Regions from separate parts of the Homo sapiens genome. Here regions 1 and 2 are each linked to region 3. The links come from fine-mapping of genetic effects on gene expression. A gene starts in region 3. Each other region holds a variant in brackets. All regions are shown on one strand. Distances are between the middles of the regions. Region 1 overlaps UBE2O (ubiquitin conjugating enzyme E2 O). Region 2 overlaps UBE2O (ubiquitin conjugating enzyme E2 O). Region 3 holds the start of UBE2O (ubiquitin conjugating enzyme E2 O).

Evidence for each region. PIP is the estimated chance that this variant, and not a neighbour inherited with it, causes the effect.
Region 1: its variant is the best candidate, but not a certain one, in a credible set for the expression of UBE2O in lymphoblastoid cells (GTEx, PIP 0.64).
Region 2: its variant is the best candidate, but not a certain one, in a credible set for the expression of UBE2O in whole blood (GTEx, PIP 0.65).

Annotation. Positions count from the first base shown.
Region 1 is chr17:76,419,455-76,429,992 of GRCh38, reverse strand. The region is part of intron 1 of UBE2O (ubiquitin conjugating enzyme E2 O); the gene reads left to right. Among named protein-coding and RNA genes, the nearest start is that of UBE2O, 28 kb to the left of the region's middle. RefSeq lists enhancers at 6,457-6,956, 6,957-7,458. The variant A/C (reference allele first, on the strand shown) is at 4,686.
Region 2 is chr17:76,387,499-76,398,036 of GRCh38, reverse strand. UBE2O (ubiquitin conjugating enzyme E2 O) reads left to right here. Exons shown (of 18, transcript NM_022066.4): 13 at 149-238; 14 at 1,216-1,909; 15 at 2,176-2,312; 16 at 5,924-6,127; 17 at 6,224-6,281; 18 at 6,424-8,581. The coding sequence ends at 7,094. It overlaps SPHK1 (sphingosine kinase 1), which reads right to left. Exons shown (of 6, transcript NM_001142601.2): 6 at 10,182-10,538. The coding sequence ends at 10,451. Among named protein-coding and RNA genes, the nearest start is that of SPHK1, 8.2 kb to the right of the region's middle. RefSeq lists a silencer at 7,127-7,301. The variant G/A (reference allele first, on the strand shown) is at 5,137.
Region 3 is chr17:76,447,632-76,458,169 of GRCh38, reverse strand. It overlaps UBE2O (ubiquitin conjugating enzyme E2 O), which reads left to right and starts at 5,018. Exons shown (of 18, transcript NM_022066.4): 1 at 5,018-5,445. The coding sequence starts at 5,029. It also overlaps a transcript of AANAT not described here. RefSeq lists silencers at 4,844-5,012, 4,807-5,346, 5,467-5,666.

The sequences.
Region 1 (10,538 bases), 28 kb after region 3:
TAGGGAGGGATGAAACTTCCCAAGTCATCTCTTTGAATTCTGCAAACCAGAAAATACTCAATCCCCTTTGCTGGCGAGTGAGAGAGCAGAGGCTTATGCACCAGATTGAGGTACCTTGGGCAGAGCAAGGGGCAGGGTAACGCTGGACTGAAAGAGGGATTCATGAACGTCTGCACACTAAAAGAGCAAATCCCAGCCATGCCCCTGCCTGCTCCTGGAGTGCTGAGGCCAGGCATGAGGCATGGCATTGGATTCCAGTCTGGAAAAAATGAGCATGTCAGCAACAAGACCTGCCATTGCCAGTATGTAGTGGCTCCTCACAGCAGTGGCCAGCTTTCTACTCCATCTAATGTGGTCCTCACCTGTCCAGAGCCTTGCTTATGTTCACAGGGTTTCTATCATCTTTTTATCACCTCAACTTTTTTAACTTTTTTTTTTTTTTTTTTTTTTTGAGACAGAGTCTCACTCTGTCACCCAGGCTGGAGTACAGTGGTGTAATCTTGGCTCACTGCAACCTCTGCCTCCCAGGCTGAAGCACTTCTCCCACCTCAGCCTCCCAAGTAGCTGGGATTACAGCCATGCGCCACCACTCCTGGCTAATTTGTGTGTTTTTTGTCAAGATGGGGTTTTGCCATGTTGCCTAGGCAGGTTTCAAACTCCTGAGCTCAAGTGATCTGCCCACCTCAGCCTCACAAAGTGCTGGGATCACAGGCATGAGCCACCATCCCCAGCCCAACTTTTTATTTTGAAATAATTATAGATGCATAGGAAGTTGCAAACATAGTAGAGGGCTGGCTGGACGCGGTGGCTCATGCCTGTAATCCCAGCACTTTGGGAGGCCGAGGCGGGCAGATCACGAGGTCAGGAGTTCGAGACCAGCCTGGCCAACATGGTTAAACCCCGTCTCTACTAAAAATACAAAAATTAGCCGGGCATGGTGGCATGCGCCCGTAATCCCAGCTACTCGGGAGGCTGAGGCAGGAGAATTGCTTGAACCCAGGAGGCAGAGGTTGCAGTGAACCAAGATCATGCCACTGCACTCCAGCCTGGGCGACAGAGCAAGACTCCATCTCAAAAAAAAAAAAAAAAATAGTAGAGGGGTCCCCTCTACCCTTCATGCAGTTTCCCTTGATGGTCATGTCTTATATAATCACAGACAATATGAAAATCAGGGAATTGACATGGGTACACAATATGTGCATACAGTTTCACACCCTTTATCACATCTGTGGATTCATGTAACCACATGTAACAGCAGTCAAGATACACAACTCTTCCATCACCACAAAGATCTCTTATTGCCTCACTTTTAAATAGGAATGGATGCCAAGAATAACTGGATATGTTCAGAAAGCTTCCAGTATGGAAGGTAGAGGCCAGAGAAAGCAAAGAGAAAAATGTATCTCCGAGGAATCAGAGCTGATTCAGGTAGGAGAAAGCCTTAAAGCACATGGCAAATATACTCAGAAAGAAGAGCCAATATTTTATCCATGAAATAAAAAGTTACTATAAAAATCAGAACAAGAAAGAGTTCTCGGAAATTAAAACCATTACTTTTTCTTTGAAGTTGACGAAGGCTCCCAGGAAACAGATTAAAAACGTCTGACATCTAGGAAGTCTATAAAGAGAGAAAGGGAAAATTAAGGACCATAATGTATCAGAGAAACAAGAATTATTTCAGAATGGACAGTCATAAGTTTCAAAAATGGTAAATGGAAAATGTCCTGTGGCACATTGTGTGATTCCAGAGCACTGGGCATAAAGCTTCCGAAGAGCAAAAACGGGTCACATACAAAAGACTGGGAATGAAGATGGATTGGATTTTTCAACCTCATTGGAAGCCAGAAGACAATGGGGTGGATTTCCTGTTTCAGTGACATGGTAGCTTGAGCTAAAGTTAGAACCGCTCCCATTACAATCACTTAAAATGCTATATAAGCTATAACAACAGAATAAGAAAGAAAAACAGAGAACCGAAAGCAAAGCAGGAATATAAAGCCAGAGCAGAGTAGGCAGCTCTGGGGAGGGGCAAGGTGGGTTCATTGGACCCTGAAATCGACCCTAACAATAATAGAGGTTTGGATTTGCATGAACACGTGAAGCATGGAGTTGAAACAGAAATCCCCTCAAAAGAGCCATTCCCAGGTAAAAGGGATGCAAGAAAATTTCCCCCATGGGATCAGAGAAATGTCAAGGGAGCTGATCATTGCCCCACACTCTGGATTGTGTTGGAGGAAGTCTTCTGTGAACAGTGGAAAACATCCAAGTTCTAAGTCTGTGTTTATAACATCTACATGTTGCAGGAATGCCCGAGCTGGCACCAGACCAGCCAGCAGACTGGCGATACCCCTGAAGCTTCTTGCTTGCAGAACAAAGGCAGAACTTTTCTAGAGTGACCCTTGCACAGTACAGGCCTTTTGGAATCCTAGGATGCCCACAGATGATGAGCTTGTTCTAGGAAATTACCAAGCATGTAGAAATTAGAACATGAGTCAGCGATCACAACAAACACAAGATTCTCAACATGAGAATTCAAATAATAGAAGAGATTATAATAGAAATGTCTAAAGTGATTGAAGGGCTAAAAGAAGAAATAGATGTCAAAGGAAAGAATAAGACAGAATACATCTTAAAAGGGATTATTTTTTAAAGAATCAAATAAAGCCTCTAGAGTGAAAACATTGAGTTAAAACCCCAGTGGAAATGTTAAACAGCAAATAGCATAAATTCTCAAGAGAGAACTATGGGAACTGGAAAACAGATCTGCAGAAGTTAGTTAGAATTCTGCAGAGATAAAAGAGATGCTTGTGAGGAAGAGACATTACAAACATGGATGGTGGTATGAGGGCCCAGTGGGAAAAATAGCATCCTAAAGGCAGCTTGAGAAGAAAGGCAGATTACTCCCCAGGTTCAACAGTGAAACTCAGGAAATGCCAAGTAGCAACAGTAGAGGCCATAAGGAAGTAAAATCTTCAGTGTGCTAAGGAAAATCAGTTGTTGGCTTAGTTTTCAGCAACCAGCTTAAATTATCGTTCAATAATGGGAACAAATAAGGACATTTTCACAGAAAAAAAAAAAAGTTGTATTTACTAAGAGACCTTCGCTGTACTTCGGGAAGAAGGAAGTAAGGAGAAAGGAGAAATGCGGACAGTAATGGTATCCAGAGGCGTTGGGAAGTGCAGGTAAATCTGAATAAGCATTCGCTTCTGAAAGTGATCGTCACTAATTTGGAGAGGATTAAAAACCAAAGTCCCAACAAAAAATGGAAATCAGTGAGGGGGTGATTTGAATGAACACACTCTTAAGTTCTTTGAACTGTTTGGGAAGTGTAGGAGGGATATTGATTGACTTCAAACTTTCTGAGTCAAGTAGACATGTTCCAATTTTAAGGGTAACCACCAAAAGAATAGAAATAGTGTTTAAAGCTTTCAAACTCACAGAGGGTAAAAATATGGAATTTTAAAACTAGGTCATTTGTCTAAAAGAAAGAGAGCAAAGAAAAAATATGGTAGCCAGAAAGCCCTAAAGGTAGTAGAAATAAATCCACATGGATCACAATGAAAGTAAACAATTATATGTGCCAGTTAAGACAGGTACTCAGACTGGAAGACAGCAGAGCAAATCCTGCAACATTCTGAGAGAATTCCGTATCCAGCCCAACTACGTCAAGTAGAGTAGAAAAAAGTTCTTTTGGCTGGGCATGGTGGTTCACGCCTGTAATCCCAGCACTTTGGGAAGCCAAGACAGGAGGATCGCTTGAGCCCCGTTCGAGACCAGCCTGGGAAACATGGCAAAACCCTGTCTCTACAAAAAAATACAAAAATTAGCCAAGTGTGGTGTTGTGCATCTGTAGTCCCAGCTACTCAGGAGGCTGAAGTAAGAGGATCATTTGAGCCCAGGAGGTTGAGGCTGCAGTGAACCATGATCACACCACTACACTCCAGCCTAGGTGACAGAGTGAGACCCTCCTTTTAGGCATGTAAGGGCTGGAAAAAAAGTGCCTCCTGTGAACCTCTTGTGGGGAGGAGATAGAAGGAGTTGTTCTTCACCAAAACCAGGGACTTTTCCCAGGATCCAGGAAACGGGATCTGACACAGGTGAGCGGCAGAGGAAAGTCTGAGTTAGAGAGACAGGATGGAATTCTGCAGGAGGGAGAGAGATCGACAAGAAAAAGACACAAAGCCCAAAGATACCTGATCGATAATTTGTAGGTAATTTGAAGATATTTAGAAAAGTTATGGATAGGTATTTGACAAAAGTATCAATATGTACATAGTTGTGTGAGGACACGGAACACCACTTGGTTCAGCTGTGAGCTCTGTCCTCCATCATAACACATTTAGATTTTTCAATTAATGCAGTGGAACTGTTGAAAGGATGGAGTACAGGCAAAGGGCTTCAGAGGGGAGGGTAAGAGTTAGGTCATCAGGTACCAAAACAGGACGTCAATAGATAATGTCTATAATAAGTTAGGAATTAGGGTGCAAGCATGTTGTTTATATGTATGGAGGTAAATATTCAAACAGCTAAAAAATTAAAAAGTATTTGCTTCAAAAGAGCACAGTTGAGAGGGTAAGATGGGGGACTGCCTGTTTTTGTTAAGCCTTTTAGTACTATGTTTTTTTTTTAACTTAGGCATGCATTGTTTTGATACAATTAAGCTAAACTATTATTTAAAAAAATAC[A/C]ATATGAGCCAAGTAGGTCCTTTAAAATTTTTTAGTGACCACATTTTTTTCTTTTACTTTTTTTTTTTTTTTTTTTTTTTTTGTCGAAAGGACCTTGAGAAGTGACCACATTTTAAAAACATTAAAAGAAACAGGTGAACCGGGTGCGGTGGCTCACGCCTGTAATCCCAGCACTTCAGGAGGCCCAGACGGGTGGATCACGAGGTCAGGAGATCGAGACCATCCTGGCTAACATGGTCAAATCCCGTCTCTACTAAAAATACAAAAAAGTTAGCTGGGCGTGGTGGCGGGTGCCTGTAGTCCCAGCTACTCGGGAGGCTGAGGCAGGAGAATGGCATGAACCTGGGAGGCGGAGCTTGCAGTGAGCTGAGATCGCGCCACTGCACTCCAGCCTGGGTGACAGGGTGAGGGCGAGACTCTGTCTCAAAAAAAAAAAATAAAAAATAAAAAAAAAAAAAGAAACAGGTGAAATTAATTTTGGAGGTAGAGGTGGATGGAGTCTTGCTCTGTTGCCCGGGCTGGAGTGCAGTGGCTCGATCATAGCTCATTGTAACCTCAAACACCTGGCTTAAGGGATCCTGCTGCCATTTTTTTATGTAGAGATAGGGTCTTACTCTGTTGCCCAGGCTGGTCTTGAACTCCTGGCCTCAAGCAATCCTCCCACCTTGGCTTCCCAAAGTGCTGGAATTACAGACATGAGCCACCTCACTCAGCCAGAAATTAATTTTAATGTTTTATTTAACTCAGTATATATCCAAGATACCATTTCAGAATGTAACGAATATAAAAAATACTAGTGGGCTGGGCACGGTGGTTCACGCCTGTAATCCCAGCACTTTGGGAGGCTGAGGTGGGCGAATCACGTGAGGTCAGGAGTTCGAGACCAGCCTGGCCAATATGGTGAAACCCTGTCTCTACAAAAATACAAAAAATTAGCAGAGTGTGGTGGCTCACACTTGTAATCCCAGCTACTGGGGAGGCTGAGACAGGAGAATCGCTTGAACCTGGGAGACAGAGGTTGCAGTGAGCCTAGGTTGTGCCATTGCACTCCAGGCTGGGCAACAAAAGTTAAATTCTGTCTCAAAAAAAAAAAAAAAAAAGGCCGGGCGCGGTGGCTCACGCCTGTAATCCCAGCACTTTGGGAGGCCGAGACGGACGGATCACAAGGTCAGGAGATCGAGACCATCCTGGCTAACATGGTGAAACCCCGTCTCTACTAAAAATACAAAAAAATTAGCTGGGCATGGTGGCGGGGGCCTGTAGTCCCAGCTACTCAGGAGGCTGAGGCAGGAGAACGGCGTGAACTTGGGAGGTGGAGCTTGCAGTGAGCCAAGATCGCGCCGCTGCACTAGCACTACAGCCTGGGTGACAGAGCGAGACTCCGTCTCAAAAAAAAAAAAAAAAAAAAAAAGAACCCAACCTGGAAGTAGCTGAGAGCCACCTGGTGTGAAGAGAGGAAGTCTCCTCTCCTGTGTTCTGGTTCCTTTGCGGACACTGTGCCGTAGGCCACCTCTATCAATTATGTCCTGGGCCTGAATCTTCAGGCTCTCCCTTGGCAGCTTCCTGCCTGACCTTATTTTTTATTTATTTATTTATTTATTTATTTATTTATTTTGAGATGGAGTGTCCCTCTGTCACCCAGGCTGGAGTGCAGTGTTGTGATCTCGGCTCACTGCAAGCTCCGCCTCCCAGGTTCAAGCGATTTTCCTGCCTCAGCCCCCCAAGTAGCTGGGACTATAGGTACGTGCCACCATGCCTGGCTAATTTTTTGTATTTTTAGTAGAGACTGGGTTTCACCATGTTAGCCAGGATGGTCTTGATCTTCTGACCTCATGATCCTCCCACCTCGGCCTCCCGAAGTGCTGGGATTACAGGCATGAGCCACCACGCCGGGCCCTCATTTTTATTTTTACTGTATTTATTTTTTAGAGATAGGGTCTTACTCTTGTCACCCAGGCTGGAGTGCATTGGCACAATCAGGGCTCACTGCAGCGTCGAATTCCTGGGCTTAAGCAATCCTCCCACCTCAGCCTCTTGAGTAGCTGGGGCTCCAGGTGCGTACCACCGTGCCCAGCTTGACCCCATTTTTAATGTCTTGAAAAGAGACCCTTCCTCAGCCCACATCCACCCCCTCACCTACCTCTTCCTCCTTTTCCTGCTCTTCAGCCGTAGTTCCTGAATGAGCTCCATGCTGTGATTCCTGTTTCCTGCATTGCCAGATGTTCTCCAGGCCCCGCCATTGGGGATTCTGCCCACGCCACCCATTGGGACTGCTGAGCCCAGGTCAGCAGGGACACTTCCCCGTGGCACTGGATCTCTCAGCAGCATCAGGCATTGCTAGCCACTCCTTTCTTGACACTTGTTCCCAATTCCCATGGCTTTTCCTTCAGCTGTCTCTAGTGACTCCTCAGAGGCACCCTTCTGTGTTCCAGGCACTTGCTGGGGTGCACTGGTGCCCAGTGCCTGCCCTTGTGTGGTTCACATTCTAACCCCCATGGGGCACACAGACTGCAGGTGTGGGAACAGTAAGTGCTGTGAAGAAAAATAAAGCAGGTGGATAGAGAATGAGGAGGAGCAATTCCAGACAGGGTGGCCAGAGAAGCCCTTCTGAGGAGGTGACATCTGAGCAGAAACTTGGGTGCAGCTATCTGGGGGAACATTTGAGCCATGGCTGTTCCCTGTGGTGGCCACACCTCCCCAAGCCTGGCGTGCCTCGGCTTCATTGCAGATGGAACCTCCGTCCTGCTCGGACACCTGCAGGACTGTCTCGTGTTCCAGATGTTTCATTGGCATCTGGCACAGCGTCTGCCCACCCAGTGGTTATTCAGTTTGCTGAATGGGCGAGGGAACAACTGAATGGATGGTCTACAGCATATGATGAACGGGAGGAAGAGGCCACTGGGTGCCCAGACCTTATGACAGAGCAGGTTGTGTCTGTGTCAAGCCCTTGCTGGAGGAGAGATGGGACTTGAGCTCAGCCTGGGAAAAGCCAGGTTAAAGTGAGCCGCCCTTTGCCCATGCCCTCTCCCCGTGTTGTTCATTTAGGTCGTGCTTCCACACATCATCTTCCCTTTCAGGACCACTCAGGCTGTGAATGAGTGGAGTGACTGAAATAGTTGGGAGCCATTGAGGAAAAGCCGGAGAGAGAGGCCACGAGAACTAGCATTTTGGGGTTACTTAGCACACGTCCCATTACTTATCACACATAGAGGTCTCAAAAACATCACCACAGGCCTGCCTGACCCTCCTGTGGCTTGGTTGTCCCTTAAAGGAAGGACACAGCAGATCCTTTGAGACATCTCCATCTTCCCATTTTCCTCCACCTGGGATTTGTGGTCCTTGAGCACTCTGGATGCAGATCCATTGGAGAGGGGATGGGTCCTCAGATGCAGTCTGGTGGCGTCATCTTGTCTTTTCCAGACTCCTGGCCAGCGACTTGTTGACTTCCTCCTGGGACCCAGTGACTGAGGGAAATAGAGCCAGCCAGGATGGGAGAAATGGGAAGCACGTGGCATTTACTCCATGAAAGAAAGGCCACAAGCCCTTCTCAGCCAGCAGTCCCAAGGCATCAGTTACCAGTTGTAATGGATCTCAAATGGTGCTAATTACTCCATCCCTGGGAAAATAGAAAATAGTCACTCAGGGCCGGGCGTGGTGGCTCACGCCTGTAATCCTAGCACCTTGGGAGGCCAAGGTGGGCGGATCACCTGAGGTCGGAAGTTCAAGACCAGCCTGACCAACATGGAGAAACCCCATCTCTACTAAAAATACAAAATTAGTTGGGCGTGGTGGCACATGCCTGTAATCCCAGCTACTTGTGAGGCTGAGGCAGGACAATCGCTTGAACCGGGGAAGCAGGCTATGGTGTGCCGAGATCACGCCATTGCACTCCAGCCTGGGCAACAAGAGCGAAACTCCGTCTCAAAAAAAAAAAGACAAAAGAAAATAGTCACTCAAATTATGTTCCATGCTCTAGTGTCTTTAATGTGGGTGACTCCAGTGTTTCAGTATCTGGAAGAATGGTGACCATGTGGTGTCAGCCATGAGCGCTGACAGCAGGCCGTCACTTCTTTCTGCAGTGTTTCCCTACGGTTGGGCTCAGCTCTAGGGAGCTCACTGTAGCTGTGAGTTTCCCATTTCCTGTCAGAGGAGCAACGGCCTTTTGGAGCGAAGTCTGCAGTACTGATGGACTGCACCCACTTAGCAAATGGGTGGTGCTGAGTCCTGTTCACTTTCCCATCCATGCCTTTTACCAGGAACTCAGCCCAAATACATGCTGCTATGTGTTTGTATTTATTTTTGTTGGAAATCTTGGCTTAGAAAGCAGACTACCTGATCCTGTCCTGACCTAATTGCAGGGATGTGGGGGGCTGAAGAAAGGGAGGACTCCTACTGTCAAGGTTAGCATTTGGAAGTCTAGGGGGGTGAGTGACAAGGCCGTCCCTGCCAACTCACTGGGGTCAGCCTGTCTCGGGCTTTCTGTGGCCACAGACATAAACAGTGTGTGGCAGGCCGATTTTGAATGCTGGCAGGACCAACACCTGGTGGTGCAAGACCCCAGCTTGCACTCGATCCCAGGACGTCTTGTGTCTCTTCCTCCTTGGCTTCCCATGCCTTTATCAAGCTCCTGCTTCTCTGTGAAAAAGAAATGTCTGCAGCGCCCCAGCCCAGTTTGTCTCGCAAAGATGTAGTTACAGAGTTGTAAGGAGTGGAGAATCATCATTGTTTTGACATAGTCATTCCAGGGTGGGTCATGAAACCTGCCAGTGCCTCTAGTGTAGGTTCTCCTGGCCTGCATGTAGGGTTGCTCGGTGGTGTGTTTGGGTAAAGATGTGGGCGAGTCTGTAACATTTCTGGCCACTGGGATTGATCTAAAATCACAGGTATTAGGAAAACAAAACGATGCAGGAAGCCAGGACCACTGTGGGAAGATAGGCCCCCCTGCACTTCCATAGCCCCCTGCTCCTCCATAGCCCCCTGCTCCCACTTCAGTGGGAACTTGGCCCCCGGGGAAACAACTGGCCTTGGATCAGGGCTCTTGTGTGTTATTTTTACTGCCTTTTCCTACCATATTTGCATTTTTAAAAATAGCACTGCTGAGTGGCTCCTTTTCAGCATGAGTCTGCCTAGGAAGGTACGGTGCATTTTCAGAGTGTGGCTGTTGATTAGCAGCCAAGGCTTGGCATTTGGGGGAGTGTGGTGCGAAGGGGGCCACTGCTGCGCTGGGTAGGGGTGAGGCTCCGGATCATGAGCTGTGGCAGGAGTGAGGCAGCAGCTTTCTGCTGCCCCAAGGTTATGTCATGCTTCTGTGCATTCGCAGTTGCAGGGAGGTGATGAAGGAGGGGCAGGGAGCACCAGGGTCCCGAGGGCCATGGCCGAGGAATGGGGCCAAGCAGGCATGCCTCCTTCTGCCGGCATGCTTCTTTCTCAGACTCTGAGGTTTCCGCGTGGGTAGAGCCACGCTTTCACACCAGCTCGCTCCCTTCTAGTCACAGCTCTGAGCATCGGGTTCTCAGGGCCACAGCATGGCCTTCCTGCCTGGAAGTCTTCAAGGTGGCGAAACCATGTCCACCAGGTTCCCAAGGATGCGTGCTGGCGGGATCTGCTCTTTGCCACTGTGACAGCAACTGGCCCGGGGCCTTGTTCTTGTCAGCATGGAAACTGGCCCAGGCTGGGATCTGGACCACCTGAGCAGAGGTGGGTCAAGGTTGGGGCCATATCAGTTTGAGGACCTGGTGCCTCTGTGTCTTTCCCAAGGGCTGGACCACAGGAAGGGTGTGTCAGGGAGTGCCGAAGGGTGGGCATCAGTCAACTCTCGCTTTCTTAGTTATTTTCAGTCACCTTGCTTTTACG
Region 2 (10,538 bases), 60 kb after region 3:
TGAGCTGCCGCTGGTTACATTTACCAGAGGAGCTAAGTTCCTTGTCACAAGCCAGGTGGGCATGATGTCAGTCACTGCAGAGCACAGGAGGGGCTGGGGAGCTGGAGCTTGAGCTGGGCCCCCTGACTTTGTCCCCTTTGCCCAGCAGCCATCGGTGGGCCAGGTGGCCCGTGTGGACGTCAGCAGCAAGGTGGAGGTGGTGTGGGCTGACAACTCAAAGACCATCATCCTGCCCCAGGTGAGGCTCTGGCAAGACCCCCCTGCTGAGCTTGTGACTATGGCAACTTGGGCCGGGGGCCACAGGCGTGTAGCCAGAAGATGGGCTCTCAGGTCTTCCTGGTGAGATCTCAGCGAAAGCGTGAGGGGAAAGGCAGGCATTCCACACAGCCCTTGGTGCAGGCCTGCAGTTGGCCCACCAGCCTCGCTTCTCCCAGCAATCTCTTCACGTCCATCTCTGGGTGCATGTAGACTTTCACAAACCTCCAGGATTTTCCTGGATTGTCAGCTCACTATGCTACGAAGAATGCAAGTTCCCTCCTAAAAGGAGATGGAGACTTTCCTACCACCCTTTTTAGAAAGCTCTAACAGAGAAGGAGAGAAAGGAGAGAGCCGACCCAGTTCTAGCCCCACCTGCTGGGTCCTGAGCAGAAGGGCTACACGGGCTCTCCTTCCCTCGCCTCCTGGTTGGAGCCACACAGCCCAGCTCTCCTCTCCTGGTCCACACAGGGGGCAGGAGTGGGGGCGGGAATGGCTTGCCCCATCACCTTAACGGCCATTCCAGGGAACGCAGCAGGATATGTCGGCCCTTCTACATGTCCCCTCTTGTCATATGTTCCCAGCTCCCCACACAGGCCTCCTTGGCTGCATCATTAGCTGACCCTGCGCTTTTCAGGTGTGGGACTGGGCCTGCCAAGGTCCCCTAACGCCTTGGACAGATGCTGACGAAGTGCACAGAGCAGGAGGAGAGGCTGGAACAGACCACTGGCTGGGGCTTTGGGTCCAGCTGGAGGGTGGGACAGGTGAAGGGCCTCTCCCAGAGACCTAGGGACTGCAAAAGCCAGAGCAGAGGTCAGGGAAAGGGTGGAATGAGGTTGCCAAGGCCTCATGAGCCCAGTCGCCATCAGCTGTGCGGATCAGGGATCCCCAGAGCTCCTCCTTAGTGGTGGGGAGGTGACTTCCTGTCTGCTTACCCTGGCACTTCCCTTCTGCCCCCAGCACTTGTACAACATAGAGTCTGAGATTGAGGAGTCAGACTACGATTCGGTAGAAGGCAGCACCAGCGGGGCATCCTCGGATGAATGGGAAGATGATAGTGACAGCTGGGAGACGGACAATGGGCTGGTGGAGGACGAGCACCCCAAGATAGAGGAGCCCCCCATCCCACCCCTGGAGCAGCCGGTGGCCCCTGAGGACAAGGGAGTGGTGATCAGTGAAGAGGCAGCCACAGCTGCCGTCCAGGGGGCTGTGGCCATGGCTGCCCCCATGGCCGGGCTGATGGAGAAGGCTGGCAAGGACGGGCCACCCAAGAGCTTCCGGGAGTTGAAAGAGGCCATCAAGATCCTGGAGAGCCTCAAGAACATGACTGTGGAGCAGCTGCTGACGGGCTCGCCCACCTCTCCGACTGTGGAGCCTGAGAAGCCAACTCGGGAGAAGAAGTTTCTGGATGACATCAAGAAGCTACAGGAAAACCTCAAGAAGACCCTGGACAATGTGGCCATTGTAGAGGAGGAGAAGATGGAAGCAGTGCCCGACGTAGAGCGCAAGGAGGACAAGCCCGAGGGGCAGTCACCTGTGAAGGCTGAGTGGCCCAGCGAAACCCCGGTGCTGTGCCAGCAGTGTGGCGGCAAGCCTGGCGTCACCTTCACCAGCGCCAAGGGCGAGGTCTTCTCCGTACTGGAGTTTGCACCCTGTGAGTCAGCCCTTGCCTGGTCTTCGCCTTCCCCCGCCTTCTCGGGGCTCCTGTTTGTGTCACCAGATCTGGGTGCAGGGTGGTTAGTCCCCTCGCCAGACCCCAGCTACTGCCCCAGGGCAAACCATTTCCCTGTGTGGTCACAGTGCTGAGGCCAGCAGCGGCGAGTGGGAAGTCTGTGGGTGTGCTCACCTGTCCAGCCAGGTTGGCAGATGGAGCTCCAGGGCCTCTCCATGAGGGACTGACTATTCTCTTCCCCCCTCTAGCAAATCATTCTTTTAAGAAAATTGAGTTCCAGCCTCCAGAAGCCAAGAAGTTCTTCAGCACAGTGCGGAAGGAGATGGCGCTGCTGGCTACCTCACTGCCTGAGGGCATCATGGTCAAGACTTTTGAAGATAGAATGGCAAGTAGGCTTGGCATGGGCAGGTGCAGATGTGCTGTGTGGGCACCCAGTGCCCAAGAGGCCACCAACCTTGGGTCCCCAAACCTCCGGGGCTGACTGGCACCTGCGAGGACACTCACCCACCCACCTTTTACAGGGGCGGTCACAGGCTCAGTCAGGTGAGGGCTGACTCAGCCGTGTGTCCAGGCCAGATGGTTCTTTCTTTCCTCCCTCCTTTAAAAAATTACTTTCTCGGCCGGGCGCAGTGGCTCACACCCGTAATCCCAGCACTTTGGGAGGCCGAGGTGGGTGGATCACGAGGTCAGGAGATCGAGACCATCCTGGCTAACACAGTGAAACCCCGTCTCCACTAAAAAAAAAAAAAAAATTACAAAAAACTCTCCCGCCACCATGCGGGCGCCTGTAGTCCCAGCTACTCTGGAGGCTGAGGCAGGAGAATGGCGTGAACCTGGGAGGTGGAGCTTGCAGTGAGCCGAGATCACGCCACTGCACTCCAGCCTGGGTGACAGAGCGAGATTCTGTCTCAAAAAAAAAAATTACTTTGAAATAGGCCGGGTGCGGTGGCTCACGACTGTAATCCCAGCACTTCGGGAAGCCGAGGCAGGTGGATCACCTGAGGTCAGAAGTTTGAGACCAGCCTGACCAACCCGGTGAAACCCTGTCTCTACTAAAAATACAAAAATTAGCCGGATGTGGTGGCGGGTGCCAGTAATCCCAGCTACTCGGGAGACTGAGGCAGGAGAATCACTTGAACCTGGGAGGCAGAGGTTGTAGTGAGCCAAGATCGCACCATTGCACTCCAGCCTGGGCAACAGAGCGAGACTTCATCTCAAAAAAAAAAAAATTACTTTGAAATTAATTATATTATGATTACTCCTCAAGCCTACTTTTCTTTTTGAAAAATTAGAACATTACAGATCCTTTGAGTGGAAATGGAAGAGCTAAAGTTGCCTTTGACCAGACCTCACTTCCCTTTCTCCCCGAATCATAGGCCTCTTCCCACACCCAGAGGATTGTTGGAAGTTTAGTGGGTCTCCTTCCAAACGGATGACCTTTTTTTTATACTTTTACATTATTTATACACTAAAAAAATATTTTTACATTTTCATGTATCACCATAAGTACATAATATTTTGTATGATTTGTTTACACACAGAATATGTCGTCGTACACATCATCTCTAATTTGCTTAAGACCAACCTGTGTTGATTCATAATGATCTAGTTTCTTCCTTTTTACCTGCAAAATAGGATGACAGCATGTGGCCACACCACATTCCATTTTCCCACTCCTCTGTTCGTGGACGGGGCCTAGTGTCTCTGAGTCATGTTTACTGAGGCAGCGCTGAGTGCATCCTTCCGGAACAGGCAAGCCCGTTTGCCTGCCACCTTGTTGACTCCGCAGTCCCTTACTGGGCCTGTGCATCGAGCCAAGCACTATGCTAGACTCTGAATCTGAGTCTGAGGCCCCAGTTCTGGCCCTGTCCTGGAAGGAAGGGAGTAAGAAAAGAAAGAGCAGGGATCCTGAGAGCAGCCAAGCGATCCTGAGAGCAGCCAAGCGGGATGCTGTTGAGATGGGCCCGGAGTAGCCACAACCCTGGAACAGGGCTAGGCAGAGTCCTAAGGCCCAGTGCTGCTTGAGATTCTTAATAACGCTTTTGGTTTTTTCTTGGGTTGTAGGAAAATTCCTTTTGAAAATTCTAGCCTGTCTCAGCTCTGCTGAGGGAAGATGGAAACAGTATTTTTTGTTTTGTTCTGTTTTCCCCACATCTCACTCAGGAGAAGAAAAGTAGTGCATTCCCTGGAGGCTCCCAGGGTGGCACCGATAAGAGCATGTGCAGAGGTTCCCTCGCCCCAGCTAGCGCTCTGCCTTCCCTGCTTCTCAGCTCATCACTGACCTCGCCCATTGCCCTGTCAGTTGAGATCCCACACACACGCGTGTGTGCACAGATGCACGCAAATAGATGCACAGATTCCAGATGTCTGTGGAGCGGTGGTCTCCCAACCTCCCCCATGGAGTTCAAACCCTCACTGTCAGCTTCTGGTTGTGAGACCATCCCCCCTTCCCCAGGCCTCACCAGCCTGGAACTGCCTTTCAGCTTGAAACTGCTTGTACTACTTGCCTTGTTGGGGATAAGGGTTGGAGCAGGTGTTTAGAGGAATTGTTTTGTTTTGTTTTTAAAAGACAGGGTTGGCCGGGCGTGGTGGCTCACGCCTGTAATCCCAGCACTTTGGGAGGCCAAGGTGGGCGGATCACAAGGTCAGGAGTTCGAGACCAGCCTGACCAACATGGTGAAACCCCGTCTCTATTAAAATACAAAAAATTAGCCGGGCGTGAGGAGACTGAAGCAGAGAATCGCTTGAACCTGGGAGGCAGAGGTTGCAGTGAGCCAAGATCACACCACTGCACTCCAGCCTGGGGACAGAGCTATACTCCATCTCAAAAAAACACATAAGCCAAAAAATAAAAGACAGGGTCTCACTCTGTCGCCCAGGCTGGAGTGCAGTGGTGTGATCATAGCTCACTGCAGCCTCAGCCTCCTGGAGTCAAGTGATCCTCCCATCTAAGCTTTTTGAGTAGCTGGGACTGTAGGTATGCACCACCATGCCCAGCTAATTTTTTATTTTTTGTAGAGATAGGGTCCCACTATGTTGCCCAGGTTGGTTTTGACCTCCTGGCCTCAAGCAGTCCTCCCACCTTGGCCTCCCAAAAGTGCTGGGATTACAGGTGTGAGCCATCACGTCTGGCTGAGGAATACAATCTTTTTTTTTTTTTGAGATAGCGTCGCACTGTCACCCAGGCTAGAGTTCAATGGCACAATCTC[G/A]GCTCACTGCAACCTCCGCCTCCGGGTTGAAGCAATTCTCCCACCTCAGCCTCCCGAGTAGCTGGGACTGCAGGCATGCATCACCACGCCTGGCTAATTTTTGTATTTTTAGTAGAGACGGGGTTTCACCACGTTGGCCAGACTGCTCTTGAACTCCTGACCTTAAGTGATCCACCCGTCTCGGCCTCCCAAAGTGCTGGGATTACAGGCACGAACCACCGCGCCCAGCTGGAATACAGTCTTAAAGTAATGATTTATGAGGAAAAACACCTGATAAGATAAAAACTCACTTCGAGTATTTCTCTTAGCCAGGGTTCAATGATTCCAGGCAAGGGCCAGGCACAGTGACGGCTCAGGGCTGTAAACCCAGCACTTTGGGAGGCCGAGGCAGGCGGATCACTTGAGCCCAGGAGTTCGAGACCAACCTAGGCAACATAGTGAAACCCTGTCTGTACACAAAATAAAAAAATCATCTGGGCACGGTGGCCCACACTGTAGTCCCGGCTACTTGGGAGGCTGCAGTGAGCCATTATTGCACTAGTGTACTCCAGCCTGGGGGACACAGCAAGACCCTGTCTCAAAAAAAAAAGATTCCAGGCTGTTCTGCAGAGAGAGATTTGTCCTTAGCTTCTCCACTGCTGGTGGCATCTGGAGTCCCAGGTGCTGCTCTTCCTGCGTGATCTGCACAGTGTCCTGGGAAAGAGCAGGTGCAGATGCAGATGCCACATGTAGGACACCCCCTTCCACCCCTGCCAACCTTGGCCTCCCTCCCTCCCTCCCTACCTAGGACCTCTTCTCAGCTCTCATCAAGGGCCCCACTCGAACCCCCTACGAGGATGGCCTCTACTTGTTTGACATCCAGCTCCCCAACATCTACCCAGCCGTGCCCCCCCACTTCTGCTACCTCTCCCAATGCAGTGGCCGCCTGAACCCCAACCTGTATGACAATGGGAAGGTGTGTGTCAGCCTCCTGGGCACCTGGATTGGAAAGGTGAGTATAGGGCCAGGCCCCCAGCCAAGAAGGAGGAAGAGCCACTGGTGGATAGGGGCCTGGGGAACAGAATTGATGGTGCCCTGTGTGTTTCAGGGGACAGAGAGGTGGACAAGCAAGTCCAGCCTTCTCCAGGTGCTCATCTCCATCCAAGGTACAGTTGGGCTGAAGCGGGGGTGCGGACAAGGGAGGGCCGGTGGAGGAAAGTGACTCTGATAGTCCCCCTGGCAGGTGGAGGGTAGGCCTGCATTGTGGGCCTCTCTCACCCACTGAGGGAAGGTGTCCCGCCCACACAGGTCTGATCCTGGTAAATGAACCATACTACAACGAAGCCGGCTTCGACAGTGACCGAGGCCTGCAGGAAGGCTATGAAAACAGTCGCTGTTACAATGAGATGGCGCTGATCCGCGTGGTGCAGTCCATGACCCAGCTGGTGCGGCGGCCCCCCGAGGTCTTTGAGCAGGAGATCAGGCAACACTTTAGCACTGGTGGCTGGCGGCTGGTGAACCGTATCGAGTCCTGGCTGGAAACCCATGCCCTGCTGGAGAAGGCCCAGGCACTGCCCAACGGGGTGCCCAAGGCCAGCAGCTCGCCAGAGCCCCCAGCTGTAGCCGAGCTGTCAGACTCCGGCCAACAAGAACCTGAGGATGGAGGGCCAGCCCCAGGAGAGGCCTCCCAGGGCTCAGACTCAGAGGGCGGTGCCCAGGGCCTGGCCTCAGCTAGCAGGGACCACACAGACCAGACTTCGGAGACCGCACCAGACGCATCGGTGCCACCCAGTGTGAAACCAAAGAAGCGGAGAAAGAGCTACCGGAGCTTCTTACCTGAGAAGAGTGGCTACCCTGACATCGGCTTCCCCCTCTTCCCACTTTCCAAGGGTTTCATCAAGAGCATCCGGGGTGTCCTGACGCAGTTCCGGGCTGCCCTGCTAGAGGCAGGCATGCCGGAGTGCACAGAGGACAAGTAGCTGCCAGGCACAGAGGAAAGAGCATCACCGTGGGAGAGGCCAGCCGCCGCCTGCTCACTCCCCCCCGGAATCACCCCTCTTCCCATGCCCCTCTGTCCCCACTGCAAACCCACTGCCCTCTTCTCCCCAAGGTGAGTTTGATGCTGAAGTGCAAGAAGTGTGTTGAGATGCTGCCGTTTCTATTTTGAAGCGAGCTTTCAACAGGCGGGTCCCCTGTGGCAAAGAAAATCGGAACCCTGTTGCCGATTTTCCATTTGTCACCCCAGCAGAATGTCCGGCACTTGCTCCCTTGCTGCCCCTTCTCAGGTCAGAGGCGGGTGTTCCAGGGCCTGCCGCGGGGCTCTCTGGGCCGGTTCCCTGCAGACCCGCAGGAGAGCACATGTGCCTTGCATGAAGTGTGGGTTGCGCCAACAATTCCCCTGGTCCCTTTCAACCTGTTTAGTTCAACTCAAGCCTCCCTGTGTCCCAGACCCTCCTGCTGCCACCACCACCCAGGTCCTCCCTAGTCCTCCAGCGTCAACACTATCCCTTGGGAGTTGTAGCTGCTGTCACTGACTCCCGGCTATACATGGCCTGTCGACCACGTTATAGCCCTCAGGCCTGTTGAACTTGCTCTCTAAGAGAGGTTGGGACCAGGCTAGGTTCCGGGTGACGCCCAGGAGAGGTGGTGGCCTTCACACATGCACATGGAGTTGAGGACCAGGGAGCTGCAGGGAAAGCAACAGCTATAGGTGCCTTGCTCTTCTGTCGGAGGCTGCTGGGGGCAAGAGCAGCTGCACAAGGCCAGGGCAAGTGCTAGGGCCCCTCCCCCATCACATGGTCACACTGGGACAGGCGTGCAGCTCACTGAACTCCAAGCGAGCCAGCCCTCTCTTGGACTAGAAGGCCTACTGTCAGCCCTTCGCTTACAAACTGCAGGCTCAATCCGAAGGGGACGGCCGGCGGGGGCTCTCCTAGTGCCCAGAGACAGGCCCAGAGGTTTACAAGTTTTCTAAGCTTTTGATAATGTGAAGCTCCAGGCCGAGAGGATGCTGTTGAGCACATTGCAGCTATGTAATTTTTGGTGTATGTATGTAATATTTAAGGTTGGAAAAAAAACTCAAAAGCAAAGATATTAACTCTTATTAGAAAAAAAGACAAAAAAAAAGCCAAAGCATGATGCGTCTTGTCAGCCTTAAGTGGGCTCCACACCTGTGCTGTGCTGTGACCGCCCAGCCAGCAGAGCTGCGGGAGGATGGAGCCGGACCACACACCGTGGCATTTGGAACCGAGTCGGTATCTTGTTTGAGAAACACCCGGAGTGACTGGTGGGGCTGTGCTTCCCAGTGCATTGTACATGTGGAGATGTGAATGCCTACTGCTTACGATATCTGTATAAAGTGCTGTGTGATTAAACTTTTTTTTACTTGCATTTTTTTTTTTTTTTTTTTTTGTGTTGGCTCATTAGCAAGACAAGGTGACACCATTAAACCTCCCTCTGCCATTCATCTGGGCTCCGTTGCCTTTGTGTCCCTCACACACACCCTTCCTGGGGAAGGAAAGACCTTGTTTGTTGCCAGGGAAGGCATGTGGCAGTGGGTCCTGGCTTTCCTGGCCAGGTGGGGGCCACTGTGAACAGCACCCCCACCCGCCCACACTGCCCTCTGCCTGCCAGACCTGCTTGCATGCCTTTTGTACTTCTTGTCCTGGAGCAGTCCTCTGGCCTCCTCCTGGCCGGTGGTGTGCCCCTCAGGAGCCAGCTTAGAGCAGCCTCCCAGCAGCTGTAGTCTCCAGAGACCTACAACTGACCAGTTCAGCTCCTTCCAGGTTCTGGGAGAGCCGACGTCATAGCACCTGGCGGTGGACAGGTGCCACAACTCCTGGACGCTAAGCCAAAATGGTTGCCCAGTTTAGACTTGGATGGATCCTTCCCTGCCACATTCTTTCCACTCCTGCCTGGCACTCCTCCACAGGGACAGGTAGGGAAAGGAGACAGCTGAGGGAGGCTGGGAGAACCCTAGAACCCTAGACCATTGTGGTGGATGACAGACTCCTTTTAAAAAGGTAAGATACCAGGTGTGGTGGCTCATGACTGTAATCCCAGCACTTTGGGAGGCAGAGGCGGGCAGATGACTTGAGGTCAGGGGTTTGGGATCAGCCTGGCCAACATGGTGAAACCCCATCTCTACTAAAACTACAAAAATTAGCTGGGCATGGTGGCATGCACCTGTAATCCCAGCTACTCAGGAGGCTGAGCACAAGAATCACTTGAACCCGGGAGGTAGAGGTTGCAGTGAGCCAAAAAAAAAAAAAAAAAAAAAAAGCAAGATATTGCCATTTTTTACTTCTGAGGTCTCCTGCTCCTTGCCAATTTTTTTGGGGGGGGGCGGGGGCGGTGGCCAGTGGTTTTATTGTTTTTGTTTTTGAGACATTCTCACTCTGTCTCACCCAGCCAGGCTGGGGTGCAATGGCGCGATCTCGGCTCACTGCAGCCTCAACCTCCCGGGCTCAAGCGATTCTCCTGCCTCAGCCTCCCAAGTAGCTGGGACTACAGGTGTCCGCCACCACACCCTGCTAATGTTTGCACATTTTGTAGAGATGAGATTTTACCATGTTGCCCAGGCTGGTCTCAAACTTCTGGGCTCAAGTGATCCACCCACCTCAGCCTCCCAAAGTGCTGGGATTACAGGTGTGAGCCACCACGCCTGGCCCATCAGTTTTCTAATGCCCTTAACTCAGATATTTCCCCTTTCCTGCTAAATCCACATGGGGCTCTGATGAGATTTGCTGGGACTAGCTGCTTGTGTGGCCCTGGCTGAGACATGCCAGCTCCGAGCTGCATCCTGTGTGTGGTCAGGCAGCTGGCTGAGCTCTGAGGCTGCTTCAGGTTGGAGGTGCTATAATTATCAGGGTGGTAGAGGCCCCCCCACCATTAGGCTGAACCAGCTCTGGTCCTGAGTCCCCCACCAGAATGACTATGCCTGGGGCCAGTAAAATCCATTGCCCATCCCAGGGGGCACCATTGGCCATCATTACCATTAAATTCTATAGTCCCGGCCAGAACGAGAACCCATTCTCTCCCCAGTCACCAGGACAGGACGAGCAGGCTGGGAATGTCACTTTATTTGGATTTGGTTCGTGGGGTGGGGGTCTCAGAACAAACTAGAAGGCCTTACATAGGCAGCTGGGCCCAGCCAGCTGGGCTCCTGACCCAGGACTTCATTCTGGCCTGTCCCCCCAAAGCATAGCCTCCACCTTCTCACCCTTCTCCAGAGGAGTCTCCTCCACCCCCACAGGAGCTGTGGACAGGCCCTGCAGCCCTAGGGAAGGAGGAAGGGTCCTGCAAGTAGACACTAAGGCACAGCGCGGCCCAGGGGTCATAAGGGCTCTTCTGGCGGTGGCATCTGCTGGGGCTTCCAGCTGGGCGGGGGCTCCACGCAACCGCTGACCATCCAGAAGTAGTTT
Region 3 (10,538 bases):
CAAAGAGGGCAGCTCTGTCCCAGCTTCTTCAACTTTTGGTTGTTGGAAAAAGGATAGGAAACTGACAGAATGGAGGTACAGGTTCTCAGGCCTTTGATATCCGCTAACATGATAATTTTCTTTTTTTCTTTTTCAAGACGGAGTCTTGCTCTATCTCCCAGGCTGAAGTGCAGTGGCACAATCTCAGCTCACTGCAGCCTCCGCCTCCCGGGTTCAAGTGATTCTCCAGCCTCAGCCTCCTGAGTAGCTGGGATTTCAGGCGCCCGCCACCAAGCCTGGCTAATTTTTGTATATTTAGTAGAGATATGGTTTTGCCATGTTGGCCAGGTCTCAAGCTCCTGACCTCAGGTGATCCACCCACCTTGGCCTCCCAAAATGCTGGGATTACAGGCGTGAGCCACTGTATGGGCCTAGCCTAATACGACACATTATTGAGCTCCATCCCTATGCCAGGTACTGTCCTAGGCACCAGGGTTACACACACAAATACAACATGGTCCACATGCTTAAGGGTTTAGTCTAGTGAGGGAGAGATCAGCATGTAAAATCAAGGAGTCTTACCTCCAACCTGGCAGTATCCTGATAATCTATGTAAAGCACTTAGTAGAGTATCTGGCATGAAGTTACAGCTCAATAAGTGATAGCTATTATTAGCCATTATTACAAGAAGCCGCAGAATAAACACAACACGTCTTCCAGGAGTGCCGATATTACTCAATGATTAGGGAGGAAAGGGCATTAGTTTTTACATTAAAACAACAAACATAGGCATACTCTGGAGTACAATGCAAAACTCACTTGATTTTTTGACAACAAAAGCAGATTTGAGGCCGGGTGCGGTGGCTTATGCCTGTAATCCCAACACTTTGGGAGGGCAAGGCGGGTGGATCATTTGAGGTCAGGAGTTCGAGACCAGCCTGGCCAACATGGTAAACCCCGTCTCTACTAAAAATACAAAAATTAGCCAGCCGTGGTGGTGGGCGCCTGTAATCCCAGCTACTCAGGAGGCTGAGGCAGGAGAATCGCTGGAACCTGGGAGACGGAGGTTGCAGTGAGTCAAGATCACGCTACTGCACTCCAGCATGGGCGACAGAGTGAGACCCTGCCATGAAACAAAAAGCAGATTTGAGGTCTGCACTGCCTTATCCCGCCGTGGGACACATAGACACATGGACTCCCCTGTGCAATCAGGAGTTCTTCTGAGGGAAGCCTAAAGAAATAGCATAACTACAAAAGCCCCTGCCCTTAGAGTGGGGAAACTCCTCAGGTTACTACCTGTTACCTTAGGCGCCAAATTCCTTGGGCCCTATTTCTTCATTGGTAAAATGAGGTTAAAAACTCTCTATATCCAAGATTGTGATAACAGACAAGATAATGTGCTTGGAAGTACCTGGTACAATGCCTGGTCAATAATATGTGCTTAATAAATGCTATGTTATCAGGGGGCAAGAAAACAGGGCTGAAAGGGTCATGGGAGGCAGAACAGAAGCTACTATGTTACTGCTGTTTAATCTCCCAGGTCTCTACAGGAGAGGGAGTAGGGACCTGCGTCCTTACAGCAGTGATTCCAGATGGTCATTTGGCATTGTGTTCTGGGATGGGAAGGCCATGGTTTGAGAACCCAGCCTTGCCCCAAAATCATATCCTAACTCCCCCTTCAGCTGATTCAGCCCATTTGTTCTATATCTTAGTAGATAAATTTTCTAAGATTTGGGTCCATTGACAACCACCCTGATCCCAATATTACATCAATACTCTATTAGTACTTGGCCTAAGACATCTTAAGTACTTAGGCTGCCATCTGTTTTGTGCATGTTCTTTTTTTTTTTTTTTTTCCTGAGATGGAGTTTTGCTCTTGTTGCCCATGCTGGAGTTCAATGGCTCGATCTTGGCTCACCACAACCTCCACCTCCCGGGTTCAAGTGATTCTCCTGCCTCAGCCTCCTGAGTAGCTGGGATTACAGGCATGGGCTACCATGCCTGGCTAATTTTGTATTTTTAGTAGAGATGGGGTTTCTCCATGTTGGTTAGGCTGGTCTTGAACTCCTCACCTCAAGTGATCCGCCTGCCTCAGCCTCCCAAAGTGCTGGGATTACAGGCGTGAGCCACCGTGCCCGACCTTGTGCATGTTCTTTTAACTTTTCTCTCTCTTTTTTTGAGACGCAGTCTCGCTCTGTCGCCCAGGCTGGAGTGCAGTGATGTGTTCTTGGCTCACTGTAACCTCCTGCTCCCGGGTTCAAGCGATTCTCCTGCATCAGCCTCCCGAGTAGCTGGGACTACAAGCATGCGCCACTACACCTGGCTAATTTTGTGTTTTTAGCAGAGACGGGGTTTCACCATGTTGGCCAGGGTGCTCTTGAACTCCTGACTTCAAATGATCCATCTGCCTTGGCCTCCCAAAGTGCTGGGATTACAGATGTGAGCCACCACACCCAACCAACTTTTCTATGAACATAGTTCTGTATCTTCAGGATCCTGTAAACAACACAAAGAGCTGGGATTCTGCCTTCTTTGAAGAACCTAAATACTGTAATATCCAACTTACTAGTCTTTCGTTGATGATCGTGTAGAAAAATGTGGAAAAAATGATGTTGACTGAGAAAGGTTAGGGCCAGATCTTGTTTTCCTTAACAATCCATTTAAATCTGTCCTCTGAGAATGTATCTAAACCCTTTGAAACTTAGGTGACACATTAAATTAGAGTTAGTTTTTTTCTTTTGAGATAGAGTCTCACTCTGTCACCCAAGCTGGAGTGCAGTGGTGTGATCTAGGCTCACTGCAACCTCCAACCCCCAGGTTCAAGTGGTTCTCGTGTCTCAGCCTCCCAAGTAGCTGGAATTACAGGCGCCTGCCACCTTGCCCAGCTAATTTTGGATTTTTAGTAGACATGGGGTTTTGCCATGTTGGCCAGGCTAGTTTTGAACTCCTGACCTCAACTGATCCACCCACCTTGGCATCCCAAAGTGTTGGGATTTCAGGCGCAGTCAAAGTGTTGGGATTTCAGGCGTGAGCCACTGTGCCCGGCCTAGAGTTACTTTTTTTTGAGACGGAATCTCACTCTGTCGCCCAGGCTGGAGTGCAGCGGCGCGATCTAGGCTCACTACAACCTCCACTCCCCAGGTTCAAGTGATTCTCCTGCCTCAGCCTTCCGAGTAGCTGGGATTACAGGCGGCTGCCACCGCGCCCGGCTAATTTTTGTATTTTTAGTAGAGACAGGGTTTCACCATCTTGGCCAGGCTGGTCTTGAACTCCTGACCTCGGGTCTCCCACCCGCCTCGGTCTCCCAAAGTGCTGGGATTACAGGCAAGAGCCACCACATCCAGCCTTTTTTTTGTTTTTTGTTTTTTGAGACAGAGTCCTGCTCTGTTGCCAAGGCTGGAGTGTAGTGGCATGATCTCGGCTCACTGCAACTTCTGCCTCCCAGATTCAAGCAATTCTCCTGCCTCAGCCTCCCAAGTAGCTGGGACTACAGGTGCACACCACCACGCCCAGCTAATTTTTGTACTTTTAGTAGAGAAGGGATTTCGCCATGTTGGCCAGGGCGGTCTTGAACTCCTGACCTCAGGTGATCAGGTGATCCATCTGCTTCTGCCTCCCAAAGTGCTGGGATTACAGGCATGAGCCACCACGCCTGGCCCTAGAGTTACTTTTTATATTTTATTTATTTTTATTTATTTATTTTTTTGAGACAGAGTCTTGCTCTGTTGCCCAGGGTGGAGTGCAGTGGCGCGATCTGGGCTCACTGCAACCTCAGCCTCCCAGGTTCAAGCGATTTGCCTGCCTCAGCCTCCTGAGTAGCTGGGACTACAGCCATGTGCCACCACGCCCAGCTATTTTTTTTTTTTTTCCGTATTTTTAGTAGAGATGGGGTTTCGCCATGTTGGCCAGGATGGTCTCAATCTCTTGACCTCGTGATCCGCCCACCTCAGCCTCCCAAAGTACTGGGATGACAGGTGTGAGCTGCCGCGCCCGGCCTACTTTTTATATTTTAAAATGACAATATGGAGCAGACCATAACAGTTCTGCCAGTCTGGAATTTAGTCTAGGCAGGGAGTTTGGAAATAGTACAACAATGGTTAAGCTTATCGAAGGAGCTAAATGCCAGGCACTGTTCTACTTCACTTAATCCTCCAATTGCCCAATGAGATGAGTATTGCTATTATCATCCCTATTTCACAGATGAGCAAATTAAGATGAAAATAAGTTAATCAGTGTGCCTATTTTTATAGATTAGTAAGTGGCAGTGCCAAAAATTGGAATCCGTGGTCCCCACTCTTAGCTACCTTACTATACTACCTCTTGCCATTCATTCTTGGCTTCAGGGAGCTTTGAATTTATCTGCATGGATTTGTAGCCAAACCACTGGGACCACTGATCCTTTTGTTACCTTTCTCTGGGCCTCCTTCACCAGCTTCTGGGTCAACTTCTGAGGGGTCATGACGTTCGAACTGCTTGGAATTCCTGAATACAGTGCATTATACATATGCTCTACACGTATCTATTATAGCCTTACAAGTTGGAGTTGTTTGTTATCTATTTAATGTGTATTTGTTTTGTCTCCCCAACTAGACTGGAAACACCTAGAGGACAGGGACAGTATCTTTCTCTTTCTGCAATGCTCCCAGTGCCTGGGGGCTAGGCTAGGACGCCAAGGGAGCTCATTAAAAGTTGTTGACAGTCTCTCCACCATCCTGTGCCCCACCCCGACCACTCCCCTCTTCCTCGGTGGCCACTCCACTTCCTCCTCCCGGGTCCCCGCCCCTTCTCGCTCCCTTTAGTTGAATCCTCACTGGTCTCGCCCCTTCTTAGTGGATTCCATCCTGCCCCCGCCCCCCGCGGCATCTTCAGCGTCCCCTAGCGACGAGGCGGTGGCTCCTAGCAACTGCATCCCGGCTCCCTGACGACGGCGCCACGCAGGGACACGTCAGCGCGCTATGGCCCCGCCCCCGGCGCCCGCTGGTCCCGCCTCCCCGCGCCTCGTTCGCCGCCGCTGTCGCCGCCGCCGCCCGAGACTCGCGCAGAGCAGTTATGGCGGATCCCGCAGCCCCCACGCCCGCAGCTCCCGCTCCAGCCCAGGCCCCGGCTCCAGCCCCGGAGGCAGTCCCGGCCCCAGCCGCAGCCCCCGTCCCGGCGCCGGCGCCCGCCTCGGACTCGGCCTCCGGGCCGTCCTCGGACTCCGGCCCAGAAGCCGGCTCGCAGCGCCTGCTGTTTTCTCACGACCTGGTGTCGGGCCGTTACCGTGGCTCCGTGCACTTCGGGCTGGTGCGCCTCATCCACGGCGAGGACTCGGACTCGGAGGGCGAGGAGGAGGGCCGCGGGAGCTCGGGGTGCTCCGAGGCCGGGGGCGCGGGCCACGAGGAGGGCCGGGCCAGCCCCCTGCGCCGCGGCTACGTGCGCGTCCAGTGGTACCCGGAGGGCGTCAAGCAGCATGTGAAGGAGACCAAGGTGCGGCGGGCGGGGGCTGGGCGGCGCGGGCGGCAGGGGGTCGGCGGCCGGGCCGAGGCCAGGGAAGGACGGCGTGCAGGGCCCTGCCCGGAGCGGTGCCACTGCAGTGGCCGACGCGGGAGGACAGCCCCAGTGGAGGGTACACTCCATGCAAAGTCATTGCAGCAGCTCTGGGCGCACACGCCAGCCAGGCACTGCTGGCCCGGGACCGGGCGGGCCCTGGGCTTCCCGACTTGAGGGGACTTCTAAGACATGTTATGCTGTGGTGTCGGCCTCGAGATTTAGAGACGTGGACCGACTCCCGTGGGGACTCAGGTTCTGGGGCGCGTTCGGCGTTACACCAGTGCGGCGTTTTGCTGACCCCCAAGGAGCTCGGTACTGCATTGTGCATCCAGAAATGAAGGCCGTGCCGGGTCCGTGCAGGGAGGGGTTGTGGGCATTCCAAAACAAAGATAGAGGTGAAAATCCCAGCCGAACCCAAGAAGTTCACTAGCTTACAGGCTGCATTATGGTGAAGCCACCCAGCCTCTTTTTGTTTTACCCTGCTGCCTCCTTTTAATTGCTGCAGGGAACTTTGTGAGTAAAATCATTAGCAATCAGAGCCCCGGTATGAATAGTACTTGGGGGGGAGGATTCTGACAGCTGCGACCGGGATTGATGACTCCTAAGTGCATATGGACTCCTTGAAAAAAATAATCCAGAACCCTGGGTAGAGGGGAGTCACCAATTTGGAAACCCGAAGGTTTTTTCTTGACCTGAAGCTGTTAAGCAGACATCTGACTCCCGTATGGTTTTTGGGGTGATGCTAGTGAGTATAGCAGTTTTACAAAACAAAGAGGCTTGTCATCATAAACCCGAAACCTTGAACCCGGGTTGGTTTGGTGGCTTGTTTTCCAGAATGTGAATTCCTATCAGTAATTGACACACACACACACACACACACACCCCCCTGTATCTCACACCCCTTCTTTCTCTCCTACTTCCCCTCCCCTTCAAGAAAACATTTCTAAGCAGGAATCAGGCCTACGCTGTTTTAGGTCCTTGGGAGGTTGAGAGGTCTGATTTCAGGGGAGGGCACTTTGGAAGTTGATCTGGGTTTCTCACACAGTGGGAGACAAAGACTACAGAGGAACGGGGTTTCATGTCAAACTACAAAGCGGGGTCTGTGACAACGGCTTGAGAAGGAAAAAGGCCCCACTCCAGAGAAGAGCACATGATCCATTTCCTAGAGGCAGAAGTGACTGCTGATACCAGCGGGGTCTTTTTGTTGGGGATGCACATACATCCACAGACACAAATCCACACACAGGACCCTGCTTCCCCTCAGAGAAATGTGAATCAGGCAACAGCTCTGAGACTTGGAAGGAAAATTATCAGTCCATTTACAAGAGTATTTGGAAAATATTACTTTTGTGCAACAGAATGCTTGTTAAAAATTACCCAGTATTGTGTCAGTAAAAGAGGGTTATTGCTGTATACTGTGTGACACCAGATGATTGCTGGTGTCTTTCTGTGAGTTTTTAAGAATGTTTTTCACCACCCATCTATTTGAGAGATTCGTGATTTTTGGAACGCAACTCATTTGACTGCAGCATCCTCTGTGTTGTGGCCTCCTGCCCTAGGACTCAGGGAGGTAGGCCCAGCTCACTACTGGGAGCCGCTATGTTTATCAGTTGTTGTTCCCGTCCGTCTTGACTTTGGTGGTTAACTTTGTTTGCAGTTATGCTCCGTTTGCCTCCTGCACTATGTGTAATTATACAGAGTTTGACTTGAAATACCTATTTTGGAGTTAAATCGAAAACAACGGCCGGGTGTGGTAGCTCATGCCTGTAATCCCAGCACTTGGGAGGCCGAGGCGGGCGGATCACCTGAGGTCAGGAGTTCGAGACCAGCCTGACCAACATGGAGAAACCCTGTCTCTACTAAAAATACAAAATTAGCTGGGCTTGGTGGCGCATGCCTGTAACCTGAGCTACTCGGGAGGCTGAGGCGGGAGAATTGCTTGAACCAGGGAGGCGGAGGTTGCGGTGAGCTGAGATGGCACCATTGCACTCCAACCTGGGCAGCAAGAGTTAAACTCTGTCTCAAAAGAAAAGAAAAAAAAAACAACAACTTTGAGGCACCACTTTGGATAGATTTTGCAGCTGGCCTCCTGTGACTTGCTTTGAATTTGTTGAAATCCGTTTTGTGGCTCGGTGGTGGTATTTTGTCATTGTAGCATCTGGGTTTAGCAAAAGCCAAGGGACGCAGAAATTCCAAGGAAGTGGTGGAATGGGATGCCCATTTATGGGTGGCAAGATATAGTTCTTTTAGGATTTAGAATAGGTTTGTTTTGGAGGGTGGAGTTTATACCTGATAGGTAGCTCTGTTACCATGAGCTATAGATACAGGTGACTGATTAGCTGAATGTCTCCTGGTCTGTTACTGACCACCAAGCAGGGTGGTAGGGTGGGTCCTGGGACCTTGCAGAACTGTGGCTTAGGATGATTTTTCTTCTCACCTCCTGCTCCTTATGAATTCCATCAAGGTGATAGTATGCCGTAAAGGAAAGACCATTAGACCAAGATTGACTAATCTAGTTATGAGATTTGAGAACCCAATTATTGACAAAATAATGTAGTGGCAGATTTTTTTTTTTTTTTGAGTTACTGGTTTGTTTATTATTTTTGGGATGGGGTCTCACTGTTACTCAGGTGTCCTTGAATTCCTGGTCTCACACAATCCTCCTGCCTCAGCCTCCCAGGTAGCTGGGACTACAGTAGTGATGGTTTTGAGAAACTTATTTTTTATTTATTTATGTTTTTGAGACGGAGTTTTGCTCTTGTTGCCCAGGCTGGAGTGCAATGGCGCCAGCTCGGCTCACCGCAACCTCTGCCTCCCGGGTTCAAGCGATTCTCCTACCTCAGCCTCCCGAGTAGCTGGGATTACAGGCATACGCCATCACGCCCGGCTAATTTTTTGTATTTTTAGTGGAGACGGGGTTTCTCCGTGGTGGCCAGGCTGTTCTTGAACTCCTGACCTCAGGTGATCCGCCCGCCTCGGCCTCCCAAAGTGCTGGGATTACAGGCAGGAGCCACCGCACCCGCCCGAAACTTATTTTTTTTAATAAGCTGCTACCTATTGAAAATTTTTGTGTGTGAGTTTCTTTTTTAAACAGAGTCTCTCTCTGTCACCCAGGCTGGAGTGCAGTGGCACGATCTCAGCTCATTACAACCTCAACTTCCCGGGTTCAAGTGATTCTTGTGCCTCAGCCTCCCGCATAGCTGGGATTATGGGCATGCGCCATCACACCCAGCTAATTTTTGTATTTTTAGTAGAGACGGCAGTTTGCCATTTTGGCCAGGCTGGTCTTGAACTTCTGGCCTCAAGTGATTCACCGGCCTTGGCCTCCCCAAGTGCTGGAATTACAGGCATAAGCCACAGTGCCTTGCCCCATTGAAATTTTTTAGTAGTATCTATTTAATGTGGAGTGTTTCATAGGGTGTGGCGTATTTTTGTAGTTTTCTCTGTAAATTGGAGGGCAATGAGTAAAGGCTTAATCTTAGTCTCAAGTTTTTAGTGAACAAATTTACAAAGAGAGATGAAGAGACTGGGCAGCAAGTCATGTCCTTTCCCTGCTGCCTTCATGAAAATAGCAACAGAAACAAAGTAAGTTCTTCCATGAAGCTATGGAATTTGTCGTGTTCCTGAGGCTTCCAGCCACCAAAATTAAGCCTCTTAAGGACTCAAAAGGAGCTAGTGGCCAGTGTCTCTTATATGCTTCTTCCTTTCTCCAGTCTTCTGACCTGTTCAGCGAGGTAGCCACTTGAAACTGTCCATCTGGCCATGGATCTCCTTAGAGGAGGCTTGCCCCTTCCCCATCACCAGTCATCCTTTGAATAAAATTTTGTAACAAAGCCAAATGCCAGCAGCCACTTAAACCTTCATGAGCACTGGCTAGACGTGGTGGGTCCTTCTGGTCTCCACCTGTCATGGTTGGGCAGAACAGCCCCCTGCGAGGTAAGGGAGCAGGACTGCTGTCTGTCAGTTCAAGTTCAGCCTTCGTTTCGGAGGCAAAGCGTTTATGCTTTAGCTTTCTTGTGCTTTTTCATCTCTTTTGCATTGTCTTTTGTTTTAAGTTGCCATGACATTCAGGGTTTCACCAGGTTTGAGATATAGTGCCTCTAAATTAGGGCTGTCTGTGATCACCCTGCTTTTATGAAGCTGTGTGTGTGAAACATCCCTGATGACAGGTCCCTCGGGAATTGGCTTTGCAGTTTATTTTTGGCTCCTACGCTGGCCAGCATTTCCATGGGGAAAGCTATTTAGGTGTAGCATCATGGCACGTGAAGTTTGTCTCACTTGTCTGGGTGCTGGGCCCATTAAAAGCAATTGTTCTTAGTGATGTAATGTGAAGAAGTTATATAAGGTTAACCAAGATGCAGGACTAAGTGAATCTAAATTGCGTTTTATTCAGATAGGATCACAGCACTTGTAGACTCTTAACAGCTGTTCTGTGATTTTATTCTTTGTCCCTTGATTTTTCCCCTTCTAGCCCTCGGGCCTCAGTGCCCTGATGGTGCTTCTGTCTGGCTGCTGCCTGACTCAAGGGTACTTTCCCCAGATGAAGGGTGTGTGTTTTGTACTGTGATTGGAAGCCAAAACCCTTGGGTGCTCTTCCTGGCTGTCACCTACTCTGAATGACCTTGACCAAGTCACTGCCTCATTTTCTCCCTCTGCAATGAAATAAGAGGTCTATCTTCCTAACCCCGATATGATCCTGCTCGGATGGAATAACCAGAAGTGTAGCTGGGTCAAGCCTAGGATGGCCACTTGGTTATTAGCAGACAGCATTCTGATGTCTGTCAGAGAGAGCCAGCCCTGTGCCTTCAGAAGATCACTTCCATGAGAAAGAGGGTGATGCTGCACCAAAGAGGCACCTTGGGAAGCAAAAGGTGCACGAGGCGGGTTGTGGGGAAGGTGGTTGTTTCAGGGGCATAGGAATTCCTAATGGCTCGTGTTGCTAGTGACCAGATGGATTATAGGTTTGACTTTATTAAACCTCTTCTAGAAATACTCATGAACTTCCTACCTCTGTTACTTTGTGAGAAATT